Linked DNA regions of Homo sapiens: all the other regions are linked to region 3. Evidence: fine-mapped expression QTL. A gene starts in region 3. Each other region holds a variant in brackets. All regions are shown on one strand. Distances are between the middles of the regions. Region 1 overlaps LOC101928334 (a long non-coding RNA gene). Region 2 has its middle 42 kb from the start of S1PR1. Region 3 holds the start of S1PR1 (sphingosine-1-phosphate receptor 1).

The links.
Region 1: its variant is fine-mapped to the expression of S1PR1 in fibroblasts (GTEx, PIP 0.91).
Region 2: its variant is fine-mapped to the expression of S1PR1 in whole blood (TOPMed, PIP above 0.99). The same link has a PIP of 0.9 or more in blood mononuclear cells.

The regions. Positions count from the first base shown.
Region 1 is chr1:101,175,422-101,180,671 of GRCh38, forward strand. It overlaps LOC101928334 (a long non-coding RNA gene), which reads left to right. Exons shown (of 4, transcript XR_426738.4): 4 at 107-1,134. Among named protein-coding and RNA genes, the nearest start is that of S1PR1-DT, 58 kb to the right of the region's middle. The variant A/G (reference allele first, on the strand shown) is at 2,191.
Region 2 is chr1:101,276,528-101,281,777 of GRCh38, forward strand. No RefSeq gene overlaps it. Among named protein-coding and RNA genes, the nearest start is that of S1PR1, 42 kb to the left of the region's middle. The variant C/A (reference allele first, on the strand shown) is at 2,550.
Region 3 is chr1:101,234,856-101,240,006 of GRCh38, forward strand. S1PR1 (sphingosine-1-phosphate receptor 1) reads left to right here and starts at 2,164. Exons shown (of 2, transcript NM_001400.5): 1 at 2,164-2,244; 2 at 3,967-5,151. The coding sequence starts at 4,130. S1PR1-DT (S1PR1 divergent transcript) reads right to left here and starts at 1,673. Exons shown (of 2, transcript NR_104626.1): 1 at 1,470-1,673; 2 at 18-1,026. RefSeq lists enhancers at 1,254-1,343, 3,977-4,026.

The DNA of each region.
Region 1 (5,250 bases), 59 kb before region 3:
ATGTTCAAGTATACAATAATATGCAAAGGGAAAACCTTAATAATTAAAGTAGGAAATGAGACTAACTCTGAGAAGAGTAATCAAAGACATTGTATTTTTTTTTCAGTAAGATCAAGTAAGTCATTCCAAACTGTCTGGCGTCCTGTCCCAAAACATCTCTGAACTTCTCAGTTCAAGAAGTAAGTTCCAGAATTTATTTGGCAAAGGTAGCTTATGTTCACAGTACTGTCTCTGGTTTTCCAGTCTGTCTCCTAGTCATAGGCCCCTAAAGTCCACCAGCCCTTACACTTCCGGCTGCATGCTTGCAAAATCTACTATGTAGTTCTGATTTTGTAATTTTCATTTCAATGAGCATGAAAACTTTTAATACTGAACGTCCAGAAAAGATCTTGTTTTCTTTTATTCCCTTTCCTTTAGGTCATTTTCTTGTAGTTTTCTTCTTTCATTCAATTTTGATAAGACTTCTTTCTTTGAAAATGACATTTAAAAATAAGGTTAACACACAAGTTATTACTTTAATAAAGCACATAACGTATACCTTATAAAATATTTTGAATGCTTTAGAAACTTGTCTTTGCTGCACACAGGCAGAATGGAGTAATATTTTAAGATTTCCTGCAACTAGAAAGGTATGGAAAGTCTTACTGATTTATATTGTGTTCTGACTTCCTGAGGCAGTTTTCCTAATGCTATTCCATTTTAGTCATACCATGAAACAGAGCTTGCTCATTTATTGTGTTTTTTTTTTTTTAATCAGAATTCAGTGTAGAACTTTGTATTTCAGTTTTGTTTGTTGTTTCTTTAGCTTAATTTCTATGGAATTTTATAGTAATAGCAGTTTTATTTTATAAAAGTTCTCTTGCTGGGAGGATAATTCTGTAAGCATTTGAGAAAAGGAATTCCCAGTTCAATTTTCAAAATTATTTTCAAAAATAAATAACCTGACTATTTAACATATATAGTGTTCCAGACTTGCATTTATTGCCTGTACTATGTAATTAAAGATTTTATTATCTATAGTTACTTGGGAAGACACATCTTTTACATCAGTGTTTGTTTCTCAGGACAGGAAACATTTATTACGGTTCTTTTGTATTCCTAAAGTACCATAGTTCTTTTTTTTTTTTTTTTTTGGGGGGGAGAGAGTCTTGCTCTGTCACCCAGGCTGGAGTGCAGTGGCACGTTCTTGGCTTACTGCAGCCTCCACCTCCTGGGTTCAAGTGATTCTCCTGCCTCTGCCTCCTGAGTAGCAGGGACGACAGGCATGTGACACCACACCCGGCTAATTTTTGTATTTTGGTAGAGATGGGTTTTCACCATGTTGGCCAGGCTGGTCCTGAACTCCTGACCTCAGGTGATCTGCCTGCCTTGGCCTCCCAAAGTGCTGGGATTACAGGCGTGAGCCACCACGTCCAGCCTTAAAGCTCATACCATAGTTCTAGACAAATAATATGTAGATGCTCACTTGATAAAAGGGTGTTTATGTTGTATTCTTTCCATTTAATTCTTGTAATTTGAGTCTTACTTGCCTTCCTTAACCATACACCATAGAAACATTATAGAATTTCTTTTATTTTTTTTTCCATCAACTTTTATTTTATGTCCCAGGGTACATATGCAGGATATGCAGGTTTGTTACATAGGTAAATGTGTGTCATGTTTGTTGGCTGCACAGATCAACCCATCCCCTAGGTATTAAGTCTGTCACCCATTAGCTATTCTTCCCTGATGCTCTCCCCCAACCTTTACCCCAACACAGGCCCCTGCGTGTATTGTTCCCCCGCACCATATATCCATGTGTTCCCATCCTTCAGCTCCCACTTATAAGTGAGAACATGCGATGTTTGGTTTTCTGTTCCTGCATTAGTTTGCTGAGAATAACAGCTTCCAGCTCCATCCATGTCCCTGCAAACAACATGATCTTGTTGCTTTTTATGGCTGCATAGTATTATGGACTTTTTTATGATGTAGCTTAGTCTTAATAACATTACTGGTTATTTGTGCATAAGATCTTTCTGATTTAAATCTTTCCCCTAAATATTAAAACAGAAATGGGAAAATTTAATCTTTCTGAAAAGATCTCCTCTTTTTGTCATGTGGTTTTTAATGGCTTTTTATTAATACAGTCTCGAGCAGGGGTCTCCAACCCCCAGGCCACAGATGGGTACCAGTCAGTGCCTGTTAGGAACC[A/G]TGCAGCACAGTGGGAGGTGAGTGGTGGGAGAGACAGCATTATTGCCTGAGCTCTGCCTCCTGTCAGATCAGGGGCGACATTAGATTTTCATAGCAGCAGGAACTCTATTGTGAACTGCGCATGCGAGAGATCTAGTTTGTGCTCTCCTTATGAGAATCTAATGCCTGATCATCTGAGGTGGAACGGTTTCATCCTGAAACCATTCCCCCAACCCACTCTGTGGAAAAATTGTCTTCTACAAAACCAGTCCCTGGTGCCAAAAAGGTTGGGCATTGCCATTATATATAATAGCTGAAGCGTATATACCAGGACATTTTTTTAAGTTCAAAATATAATTAGAGGCATCTCATTAAGATTTGTTTGTTTGTTTGTGACGGAGTCTCCCTCTGTCGCCAGGCTGGAATGCAGTGGTGCGATCTCAGCTCACTGCAACCTCCGCTTCTCGGGTTCAAGTGATTCTCCTGCTTCAGCCTCCCGAGTGGCTGGGACTACAGGCATGTGCCACCATGCCCAGCTAATTTTTTGTAGTTTTAGTACAGATGGGGTTTCACCACGTTGGCCAGGATGGCCTCGATCTCCTGACCTCGTGATCCTCCTGCCTCGGCCTCCCAAAGTGCTGGGATTACAGGCGTGAGCCACCACTCCTGGCCTAAGGTTTTTTTTTTTGGATTTTTTTTTTTTTAGATGGCCTCACTCTGTTCCCCTAGGCTGGAGTGCCATGGAAAGATCCTAATCTTTTCAAGGCTCACTGCAGCCTTGACCTCTTGGGGTCAAGTGATCCTCCCTGAGTAGCTAGGACCACAGGTGCATCACCTGTCTCAGCCTCCTGAGTAGCTCCTCAGCCTCCTGAGTAGCTAGGACCACAGGTGCATCACCACACCCAGCTAATGTTTTTTATTATTTTGGTACAGACAGGCTCTCCCTATGTTGCCCAGGCCGGCCTCAAACTCCTGGACTCTAGTGATCCTCCTGCCAAGTGCTTTGGGAGCACTTGGCCTCCAAAGTGCTGGTATTATATGTATGAATCACTGTGCCCAGCCCTCATTAAGATTTAAGAGAAGACTTTTACTCCCTGCATGCAATGGCTTATACTCACAAATCTCAGCAAATATCAGTTCTTCAAATGACATGACACTGACAAGAAATGGAAAGAACCGTTAAGAATAATAAAAAAGAGAAAGCTAACTTACAGTGACATAGAAAGAAATGAGACATTTCCAGAGAAGTAGTCAGTTCTTGTGATTATTAATTTTCTTCCTTCTAAACTGACTAATAAATAGCATTTTCAGTTACTTGCACCTTTGAAGCTTTCTGTAGCAGCATTGTTTCCATCACTGTGACATAAGTCTCCTGAGTACAACTCTTAAAATTAACCCTTTTGAGGTTGCCAGTGGTTTCAGTTTCTTTATATTCTTCTGCCTGTCACGCAGAAAAGTAAATCATTTTCTCTAAATTTGTCATCTTTTCTACTCTGTTATAGACCCGTCTTCATATTTTAATTTCCCTTAACTTTTGCAGTCTGAACAAATGAAGAAATCACATTTGTATCTTATTTTAAGTCCTCATCAAAAATTCAATTCCTTTTGGAGTTTTTCAAAAGCTTTCAATAGTGGAGGAGTTATAAGGAGAAGCGAGGTCAGATGGTTGACAGGAAGTGGGTAAAGTGTTTCATTGAGGAAGAGTGTGGGGTTAAAGAACACACAATAAAAGGAGACAAAGGAAGAAGTAGGGCCCCGTGGAAACAAGAGTCATAAAGACATAGAAGTGGAGTGCCAAATGTCTATATTTCTTCACAAAGATGACAAGATTTGAAAATACACGTCAGTGACAGTGGCTGGCAATCAACTACCACGATAGACCATAATGAAAGCCGGGTGGACAAGTATTCATTTCTTTGAAATGAATACTTTGAAATGAATAACTTTGAAAGGCTCAGATAAGGTCTCTGGTGTAAAGGAAAATACTCTACAAAAATTGATGCTTAAATGTACATGGGAGGAGCTTCTGACAATGTTCTATTTCTTGACTTTGTTAATGATCAATTATGCATTTTGGGATGATTCATTGAGTAATACACTAATTTGGGGCACTTTTCTGTGTGAGTGTTATATTTCAATTAAAAATGAAAGAGTAGCAAATAATAAATATTTGGCTTCCAACTTATTCAATTTTGTACTGTGTTCTTTGAGACCATTAGATTACCTAAACCAGTCATTATTTGTGTCTTTCTGAAGAGATCTGGTGATTTTCTTCTAATTCAAATCAACTCAACAAACATTTATCGAGTGGCCAAATGTGCAAGATACAAAAGGTGAAAAACTGCTCAAGAAGCTTACAGTCTAATGGGGAAATATAATGCAACGGGGTTAGAACAACAGCCTGGGCATGTAAATGGTGTCATAGTAAAAATGGGAATTCAGGAGTAGCATGGAAGAAGTAAGAGAAGGTTTTGTTCAGGAGGTGACTTTTGAGCCAATTAGCCAGTTCATACTGAAGTAGAAATTTCCTAATGTAGGAAAAGGCATTTCATACATAGGCGAAAGCATCACCCCACTATTTGTAAGTTACACGTAGATCAGTATTGCCAAGTTGTACACTTCTAGGTGGTATGAGTGGAGAGTTCAGAAGCAGACCTTATTTAAAACATTAGAAAGCCAAGTGCAGTGGCTCACACCTGTAATCCCAGCACTTTGGGAGGATCACTTGAGCCCAGGAGTTTGAAACTAGCCTGGGCAACAAAGTGAGACCCTGCCTCTACAAAAAAATTAAAAAACTAGCCAGGCGTAGTGGTTCACACCTGTTGTCCTGCTACTTGGGAGGCTAGGGCAGGAGGATTGCTTGAACCCAGAAGGTCGAGACTGCAGTGAGCCATGATCACATCACTGCCCTCCAGCCTCAGTGACAGAGCGAGACCCTGTCTCAAAAAAATATATAACAAATAAAATAAATAAGTATATAAAGAAATCATTAGAAGATCAGGCTGGGTGCGGTGGCTCACGCCTGTAATCCCAACACTTTGGGAGGCCAAGGTGGGTGAATCTCTTGAGGCAAGGAGTTCG
Region 2 (5,250 bases), 42 kb after region 3:
AGGAAGTGCCTTCCTCTCCTGCCTCCCCTTCCACCTCCTCCACCTTCTCCACCTCTGCTACCTCTGAGACAGCAAGGCCAACCCCTCATCTTCGTCTCCTCCTCAGCCTACTTATGAAGACAATGAGGGATGAAGACCTTTATGATGGTTGACTTCTACTTAATGAATAGAATAGTAAATATATTTATCTTCATTATGACTTTCTTAATAACATTTTCTTTTCTTTATTTCTTTATTGTAAGAATACATATATAATCCATATAACATACAAAATATCTTTTTCTTTTTTCTAGTGGTGGTGATATACATGGATTTTTGACTGTGCAGAGGGTCGGCGTCCCTAGATCCTGAGTTGTTCAAGGGTCAATTGTACATAATAATTTAACTTTTGCAAAACAAAGATAAAAGAATGCCACATATGTGTATGCACATAAATCTTATGTCTGCCTATTTAGAATTCTGTGGTCGGAAACATATGGCGTTCCTGACATAAATTACCTTAAGGAGGAGCAGTTGCTGATGTAGTGGAGCGGGAGAAAGAGGAAGAAAGAGAAAGAACAATGCAGAAAGGCTTCACTGAAAGAAAAGCATGCTTTTGATATTACATTTCTGTACGTCTGCAAAACAAATTTATGTTGTTATGTTTGTAAAGACATCTATTAATTATGTTTATTAATGTATTTTGTAAGCATGTTTATTACTAGATACCAAGCAGTATTCTACGTGGTTTCAAATAGCAATTAATTTAATCATTCCAACAGCCCTCTGAGGCAGGTTTGGTTAGTGTCTGTATTTCCAAGATAAGGAAACTGAGGCACAGAAGAGGTTGTCACAGTTACAGAGTTGGTAAGCAGCAAGTCAGGGATTTGAGTGCAGGCATTATCGGTCCAGAGTCTATCTTCTTAACTACTGCATTATGCCCCTTCTCTTTTTAATAAAAAGTAAACCAGCCATCTCCACTCTCCACTGCTTTACTCTATCCCGTAGCTTGCCATTGCACTTGGAAGCCAGTTCTAACTCCTCTGGTGGACTTTAAGGCCCCGTGACATCCAGCCTCTGCCAAGCTCTCTAGACACCCAGCCTCACTGACCTCTGTCTCTTCTTTGATTTGCCTGTTCTGCATCTTGTTCCCTTGCCTTTTTCTCAGGTCACCTTATAACTGGCTCTGTCACATCCTTCAGATCTCAGTGTAATGTCCCTTCCTTGAGGGGGCTTCCCTAACCACCTATCTAAGTAAGTCTCCTTACACCTCTCCTTTCTTTCTCTTTTTTTCTTTTTCTTTTGAGACGGAGTCTTGCTCTGTCACCCAGGCTGGAGTGCAGTGGCACGATCTCGGCTCACTGCAACCTCCACCTCCTGGGCTTAAGTGATCCTTGAGCCTTAGCCGCCTGAGTAGCAGGGATGACAGGCATGCAACGCCACGCCCAGCTATTTTTTTATTTTTTGTAGAGACAGGGTTTCGCTATGTTGCTTAGGCTGGTCTCAAACTCTTGAACTCAAGTGACCTGCCCACCTCAGCCTCCCAAAGTGTTGGGATTACAGGCATGAGCCACCACACCCGGCCTCCCCTATACCTATCATAACAAACTCTTCGTCTTCTTCATACTACTGAATGCAGCCTGTACTTATTTGTGTTATTTGCTTACTGTGTATCTATCTCCTCTGTGCAGTATAAGCCCCAGGGGGCAGGGTCTTTTTAAGTCTTGGCCTCCATTGTATCCCCAGCACTTGCCACAGGGCTTGGTTAATAGCGGGTACAGAAGAAATTTTTTTAAAATAAATAAATACATGAATGAAAGGCAATACTGAAAGGTGAGGAAGGGTTTGGTTCTGAAATCAGACAGACCAGAGTTTGACTCAATCCTCTAAGATTGGCAGACTTGTGAAACCTCTTGAAACATGTATTGTCATCTGTGAAAGGGAGATAATAATAGTATGTACCCCATAGAGTTGTTGCGAGGATTAAATGAGATAAATTATCTACCATGCACATCGTAACCCCTAATGCATCATAGCTGCTATTATTACAGCCATCAGTATCATCATGCTGAGGCTGCTTCACAGGCCATTGTCCAGCCCGTGGGGTGACAGAGCTTGGATCAGATCCTATCACTTTTCCAATCAGCTTAGGCTTGGCAGGTAGGATTTGGGGAATAACTTCTAGCTAAGCCTGTGTGTGGAGCAGGCACATGATTGTCATGCCCGTAATAGTGTTGAAAACCAGGAACATTTTCTAGAGAGCCACTTTCTCCTCCTCCCTTGTTTTTCCTAGCCTTCTTTCAGTTCCCTTCCCTTTCTTGGTATTGCTTTTAATACAGCCTGAATTAAGCCAGTCCTCTGCTTAGCTCCCTTTCTGCCATTGGAAAGCATCTTTGGGAGTGTAAGGGATTCTGTTCCTTCAGTTGATAGAGCATGCTTCACAGAGACAGGTATTTGAGGTTGTGTTAAGTTAGGTTAACCAGACTTTGAAGGAAACACACAGTAGCTTAATCATAGCACAGAGATGATAACCTCATGGTTTTCTCTTCTTCCTGGGTCTCAGGAAGCGA[C/A]GGCTACTCCACCCTTCCCAGTGGTTGCTGGCAGAAAACATTGATGTCGATTAGTATATAGGGTATATACAGAGAGTGATGGAAAAGAAAATGCAAATAGGAGCTAAGATATTTTCACAGTGGAAAACAATTGGAAACTGGAAAATAAGAGAGGATGGCCTCAGGAGGTCTTGAATGCCTTATGTTTATTCAAGGTGAGGGGCAGAAGCTATTGGTTCTCTCGAGATTAGCCAGAGAAGACTTCCTGGAAAAGTACCGAATTATCCAGTTGGCCATGGGTGCCAACTCCTAAAGACTTCCTGCCTCCTGCTTTTTTGAACTTATTTTGTAGTTGTCTGAGCATATTGTCTTGTATATGTGATGCTGTCCTCTTTTCCAGGAATGACTTTTCTATTCTGTATTCCCTTAACTGCCTTAGGAACTCCTGTAACTTTTCTGCGACTAGCCTCAGTACCTAGCACAGTGCCTGACACATTATAGTCATTTCCTAAATGTTTGCTGAATGAATGATGGATATCCAGAAAGAAAAAAAAGTTAAATGTTGGGTGCATACAAATCTCTGGAATTAACTATCCCGAAAGATGTGGGTGTGTTGGCTCACACCTGTAATCCCAGTGCTTTAGGAAGCTGTGGTGGGAGGATTGCTTGAGGCCAGGACTTCCAGACCAGCTTGGGCAACAGCTAGACCTTGTCTTTACAAACTATAAAACAATTAGCTGGGCTTGGTGGCATGCACCTGTAATCCCAGATACTCGGGGGGCTGAAAGAGGAAGGATTATTTGAGCCCAAGAGTTTGAGGCTGCAATGAACTATGATTGTGCTACTGCACTCTAGCCTGTGCAACAGAGAAGACTCTATCTCTTAAAAAAATTATCCCAGAAGATTATATAAGTTAACTAAGGAAATATGTCAAAAGAAAGGCTAGACATAGTCTTGGGGGATAGTGGCATCCTGGGTGACAGAGGAGAGCTTGAGTTGGCAGGGGTTTGAGGGGATAGGAAACTGGAGGTTGTGTCCTGCACAGAGAGTCTGGTAGAGGGAAAGTAAACAAGCTCTGATATCCAGAACTCCTTTTACTAGCTTAAGCTAAGTAAAGGTTAAGCTTAGGTTAAGCTGTACTCATCATTCAGTGGTGGCTGAAAGTGGCACCTGAAGAAGCTCTTGGGCTTGCCTCAGAGGGACATCTTTAAAAGGAGCACCAATTGTTATCTTTTCTGAGATGGTTTCAGTGAAGTCAAGGTTGAATGGAAGGACGTATACTGACCACTAAATCTCTTACAACTCTTTGTTTTTATCTGATGGTAGGATTTAAAATTTACATGTACTGAATATTCATATATGCAGTCAGTCTTAGATTATCCCAGGGCAGAGTGCATATATTGATTGGGTTAGTGGCCCATCACAATCATTTTTGATTTCAAGCTCTTGCTAAGATAATTACAGACTCTGTAATTAATCCCTTTGTTGAAATTATTACTGTCAGTGATTATTCTGACATGGAGTTAATGCAAGGATGCTTTTCTCTTGCAAAGCAGTGTTTCCCTTCTCCTTTCCACTGATTGGCATTTCAAGAAGAAAGAAGGCAAGCAACACCTTTATGTATTAGTCTGAAGAGACTGCTGTTTAGGAGAAGCACATGGCACAGTGGAAAGGAGACAGACTAGGTGTCTGTCATTCATTTAACAGTTATTGAGCTCAATAACTCAATAACTGTTAAATAATATTAGCAATAATAACTATTGAGTTCAATAACTCAATAAGTGTAATAAGTACAGGCTAGGTGCCTTAGGTTCAAATCCTAGCTCAGTCATTTACTAGCTATGTGACCTAGGGTGACTGACCATCCCAGTTTGCCCAGGACTGTCCTGGTTTTAGCACTGAAAGTCCTGCAGTCTGGGAACTCCCTCAATCCTGGACAAACTGGGACAGTTGATCGCCCCAGTTAGTCACTTGCACTTATCTATAAAATACGGAAATTTCTTATTTTTTGTATCGTGAGTTTGGTGTGAGGGTCAAATGAGATAATGTGAAAGAATTTTGTAAATTATAAACTGCTATATAGACATAAAATACATTCCGCTTGTCTTGTTTTCTTGTCTCAGGTACATGTAGCAAAAAGCTTGGCTATAGAACTGAATTTGACACTAGGGCTAAGGCAGGCACTGAGGGATGGGGGACCCCTGGACTCCTCAGGCTCTGGGAAAGTTTCCATCTGACTGCAAAGTTTGGGGCCTGAGGGGACAGCATATTGCATCAGAATCCAGCAGGCAAATTGTAAAGAGATCCATACAAGCTGGCAGTGGGCTTCTGGTATGTTCTCAAAGCACAGTTGTCTGCAAGTAGGCACCAGGGCAATAGCCATAGGCCTGACAGCTTAGGAATCTCTTTGGGAGGGGATTGGCAAGAGCAGCCCAGGTGTTCTAGCAGAGGGACCTGGAGTATTGGGACAATACCTATAACAGCATGAACAGGACCAAAACAGGCACCAAGGCAGAGCCCTGTTACCAGACCAAGACCCAAGGCTGAGGATGGATCCTTAGTCAAGATGACTCAAAGCTGGGCCCCAGAATGTGAGGCTGAGGATGGAGGTAGGAAGAAGTGTCTGTGAGAGGAAGATGGGGTAAGAAAAGTAGATTTTACAACTCGGCTGCAGACAGACCTTAGCTGCACGGTTTTACTATCTTTTTACAGTTTGATATTC
Region 3 (5,151 bases):
TCATAGGCAGACAATGAGAAGTTTCAGAAAACATTCATTAATATGCATATGTATACACTTTGTATGCTTACGTAGAAAATGAGTGGTTTTAAAAGGACATTCATTAGCATACTTTTATATGCATTTTGTAGACTTGTACAGTCAGAAATGCAGCAAATGTAAAACTTTAAATCTAGAAGTCTGTTTCCCTCTAGGAACATATATTTCAATTCCTTAACTATTTATTGACTGATAGCGTTTGAGCCACAAGGCAAGGCATTTGCAATATTTAGGTTTTGGAACCCAGCTCTGCCACTCACTAGCTGGGAAATCTACAAGTCACCTTAGTTGTCTGAATGACACTTCTCTCAACAATAAAATGGCCAGCAATGCTTACTTACTTCACAGAGCAGTAAGGTTAAATTAACCTAGCACATGCTTGATACAGACTAGGTGTGAAATTTCACTTTGATTCCTTTGGCTTTAAAGAATGCATAAATTAGTGTGGGTGGAGGCGGGAGAAGGGGGGGAATGCCAAGTCCCCCGTTTTGTTGTGCTGGGTAGACACAATATACCTCTTCCCCTTTAAGTGAAATAAGTCTTCAAATCCAATTAGGATCTACTCTGGAGTCTTAGAGGACCGTTATCTTGGTTTCCACATTATATGCACTGTACTGTTGTTGAAGCTGTGGGTATGTATTGGGTGCGTCGCTGTCGATGAATGCTTTAAAACAGCTGTGAATTAACTGTCACTTCTTTTTTTTTTTTTTTTGGCAAACTCACAAAATCCCAGAAGTCAGGGGTCTGTTGTTTGTTCATTCTGCCTCCTTCTGAGTCATTCAGGTACAGGGTGTGTCTGCCAATTGAAACTGCACAGCGGAGGAAGTTTTTGAGTTCACATCTGCCGGGATGGGAACGCAGTGCGACCAGGGACTGGGTGGAAACTTTTACAACAGTAATGCAAGGGCAGAAGCGTCCTGTCCTGAGCTTGTCACGCAGGCAGATCTGACCAAGTCCGCCTCTCAGCCTCACGTTCTTAAGTAGCATCTAAGCAAAAGAAAAGGGTGGGCAAAGTGCTAGTAATGAGATTTGAGGCCTCTGAGTCGACTCCCAAGCAGAATGTGAGAGAAGGGTGCCGGCTCCTGCTGGGCAGCTGCAGTTGCTCCGCAGCTCCTGGCCGAGAATCTCCCCCTTTGGAAATTCCTGAGCTGCCCAGGCGTTTTGAATCTCTCAGGACTCAGCAGCAGCCCACCCCCTCAACGACCTCTCCATTGGCCAGAATCTGGGACACACAGCCTGACTTTGTGCTCAGCTGAGGGAAACCCCTCGCCCAACACCAAAACCGGCGCTGGTTCATTTCTCTGTGCACTCTGGGAAAGCCACTGCCCCTCAGACCGCAGTTGCGAGTAGCACGAGGATCTGGGGTGGCGGGGGGAGTACAGGAACCTCCCGGTTCATTCTCCCTCCCGGGCTGCTTGTCTCCTCCGTACCTCTCGCAGCCCCTTCCCAGCCTCTCCTCCCCAGAGCGCCGCCGACACTCGCCGGGCCGCGGCTCAGGTTTTCTGCTGCTCGCGCGAAAGTGGCTCGGGGAGCTCCTGGCCACAAGCTCAGCACACCGATCCTCCTAGGGCTGCGGGGGGTGTGGGACCAGGGCGGTGCGCTACGAGACTCCGGGCCGTCCTCTGCCTCCTCAGACTTTTCGAGAGAAAAGTTTTCAAAGTCTCTCCACCTTTTTTTTTTTTCAGGGGCTCGGGAGAATCCTCTCCACAGCCAGGGATCAGCGTCTATCTGGGCGAGGGCAGTGATTTATACAGTAGAATCCAGGGGTTACCGGGCTCCGCCCCTTCTCTCTCTCTCTTTTTTTCTTTCATTTGTTGTTTGGGGAGGAGGGGTTCTTTTTTTTTTTTTTTTTTTTTTTTTTGCTTCTGCCCCAGATCTTTCCTGGACAGTGCGTCTCAGCAGTTCAGATCCGGGGGCCCCCAGCTGACAGAGGGCGTGGGGGGTTAAGGCATTAACCCCTCCCAGCCTCTTCCTGAAGAAACCACCCAGCCTTGGCGCGGCGCTGGGTGACTTCGCGTAGCAGGCAGGGAACTGGCCGCGGCGAGCGGGACTGGCCATTGGAGTGCTCCGCTGCGGAGGGAGGGGACCCCGACTCGAGTAAGTTTGCGAGAGCACTACGCAGTCAGTCGGGGGCAGCAGCAAGATGCGAAGCGAGCCGTACAGATCCCGGGCTCTCCGAACGCAACTTCGCCCTGCTTGAGCGAGGTAGGGGGCGGCGAATGGCGGGGGTCGCGGGCGCGGGGAGCCCGGTTGTGGTAGGGCTTAGGTGTCAGAAACGAATTTTTAAGTCGAACGAGGCAAACAAAAACTTAGAAAACATGCATCTCCGGGCGCTGAAAATTTGCATCTCTGGGCTACTAAGGAGCCCATCTCGATCAGATTGTTCTTGGGCACTTGTGATTTATGGAGTTCAGAAAAAAGGTTAATTCCCAACTGTGGAACCTACGGGTGTAGGGGCAGTGAAAATTGCAGTTGGTCGGAGGAATAGGAGGGAAGGCGTTAAATTTTGGAAATCCTATAGACAAAGAATATGGTGGGTGGTGTGGAGCGTGGGTAATGGCTTAAATTAGTACTGCCCAGGAGCAGGGTATAAAATTAGTTGGGGGAAAATGCGGAGCTTCTTGGCTTGAGCAGCCTCTGCTGTTCGCGGAGTTGCTGGGATTGTTCTCATCTCTATTACCTCATTTTATTGCATTGCTGCATTACCTTGAAATATTTAAGCAACTTAGAAGTAGACTTCTGCTGACCAGTGCCGTCTTAGAAAGTTTCTTTGTAACTTTCTAGTCCTAGGAGAGGAGTCAACGTGTTGGGGGACTGCAGTAAATAAAACTGCCCACGCAAATTTAGCAATGCACCAGGGAGCAGTTTAATGTGAGTTTCTGAAGAGTAGTTTTGCAATCGAAATTAGAAATGTGGTAGCATGTATTATGGCTGTCATGAGTAGTTTGATTTCTCTCTTTTGTGTATGTTTTGGCTAAACTAAACAAAGCAAAAAATATTTATGCAATCAACTAATGTACGAAACTTCTGGGATTTGCTGCAATCTGTTATGAATGGTTTTAACTGAATACCTTTAAATTTACTTGCCCTGGCTTGGGGTGGGGGGTGGGGTGGGGGGGCGCGGGGGGAGGCGGGGAGAATAAGAAGAAGAAAGAAAAGGCAGTCGCTTCACGGAGGCGCTAAGCTTTCCTGTTTACAGCAAGGCGGGGCGGGCCTGGCTGCCCACACCTCACTGCGCCCTCGGACCCTAAGCACACCTGCTCCTAGAGAGTTATTAATAGAGCCCCCAAATGGCTTACGCTTTCAAATGATTTTCCTGCAAATCTGATTTCTTGCATGGCACATGGCAATTAGGAGGTGGTGCTAGTATCTTTGAACTGGGGGGCTGGGGGTGGGCATGGGGGACAGAGGTGTGTGTCTTCGCCCTCAGACTGGCAGTTGAGTCTTTTCCGAGGAGAGACGTGGGCTGGTATTGAGCGTGCAGCTAAGCTGGTGACTGCTTCAGAGAATCTCATGGCTGGAAATCCGGGGGTGAGGGGGTGTGGGGTGGTGAGAGGGCAGGAGTGGAGTTAAAATGGGGTGTAGTTCTCTAGGTTTCCCATTCCTCCCACTCCTTGTTTTCCTTTTCATCATCTTTTTTTTTTTGTCAACCCACAGCCAACATCGTAATTCCCATTTCCCTTTGAGTGAATGTGGCCATAGAGTTTCTCCCTCTCTTTTTCTTCCCCCTCTTCCTTTTTTGAAAAAAGAAAAAAAAGGAAGAAAAAAGATAATTTGATTTTTAAAAAAAATCTCTCTCCCTGAGCTCTCCCCAAGTTTCTTTAAAACAAATCAACAACAACACAATTGGAGCAGTGCCTTAGCTAGAATGAATTATGCCAGTATGCTGTGGCTCTTTCCCTGACTCTCTCCTCTGACTTGTTTAAGGCTGCGGTTTCCGAGGCCCTCTCCAGCCAAGGAAAAGCTACACAAAAAGCCTGGATCACTCATCGAACCACCCCTGAAGCCAGTGAAGGCTCTCTCGCCTCGCCCTCTAGCGTTCGTCTGGAGTAGCGCCACCCCGGCTTCCTGGGGACACAGGGTTGGCACCATGGGGCCCACCAGCGTCCCGCTGGTCAAGGCCCACCGCAGCTCGGTCTCTGACTACGTCAACTATGATATCATCGTCCGGCATTACAACTACACGGGAAAGCTGAATATCAGCGCGGACAAGGAGAACAGCATTAAACTGACCTCGGTGGTGTTCATTCTCATCTGCTGCTTTATCATCCTGGAGAACATCTTTGTCTTGCTGACCATTTGGAAAACCAAGAAATTCCACCGACCCATGTACTATTTTATTGGCAATCTGGCCCTCTCAGACCTGTTGGCAGGAGTAGCCTACACAGCTAACCTGCTCTTGTCTGGGGCCACCACCTACAAGCTCACTCCCGCCCAGTGGTTTCTGCGGGAAGGGAGTATGTTTGTGGCCCTGTCAGCCTCCGTGTTCAGTCTCCTCGCCATCGCCATTGAGCGCTATATCACAATGCTGAAAATGAAACTCCACAACGGGAGCAATAACTTCCGCCTCTTCCTGCTAATCAGCGCCTGCTGGGTCATCTCCCTCATCCTGGGTGGCCTGCCTATCATGGGCTGGAACTGCATCAGTGCGCTGTCCAGCTGCTCCACCGTGCTGCCGCTCTACCACAAGCACTATATCCTCTTCTGCACCACGGTCTTCACTCTGCTTCTGCTCTCCATCGTCATTCTGTACTGCAGAATCTACTCCTTGGTCAGGACTCGGAGCCGCCGCCTGACGTTCCGCAAGAACATTTCCAAGGCCAGCCGCAGCTCTGAGAAGTCGCTGGCGCTGCTCAAGACCGTAATTATCGTCCTGAGCGTCTTCATCGCCTGCTGGGCACCGCTCTTCATCCTGCTCCTGCTGGATGTGGGCTGCAAGGTGAAGACCTGTGACATCCTCTTCAGAGCGGAGTACTTCCTGGTGTTAGCTGTGCTCAACTCCGGCACCAACCCCATCATTTACACTCTGACCAACAAGGAGATGCGTCGGGCCTTCATCCGGATCATGTCCTGCTGCAAGTGCCCGAGCGGAGACTCTGCTGGCAAATTCAA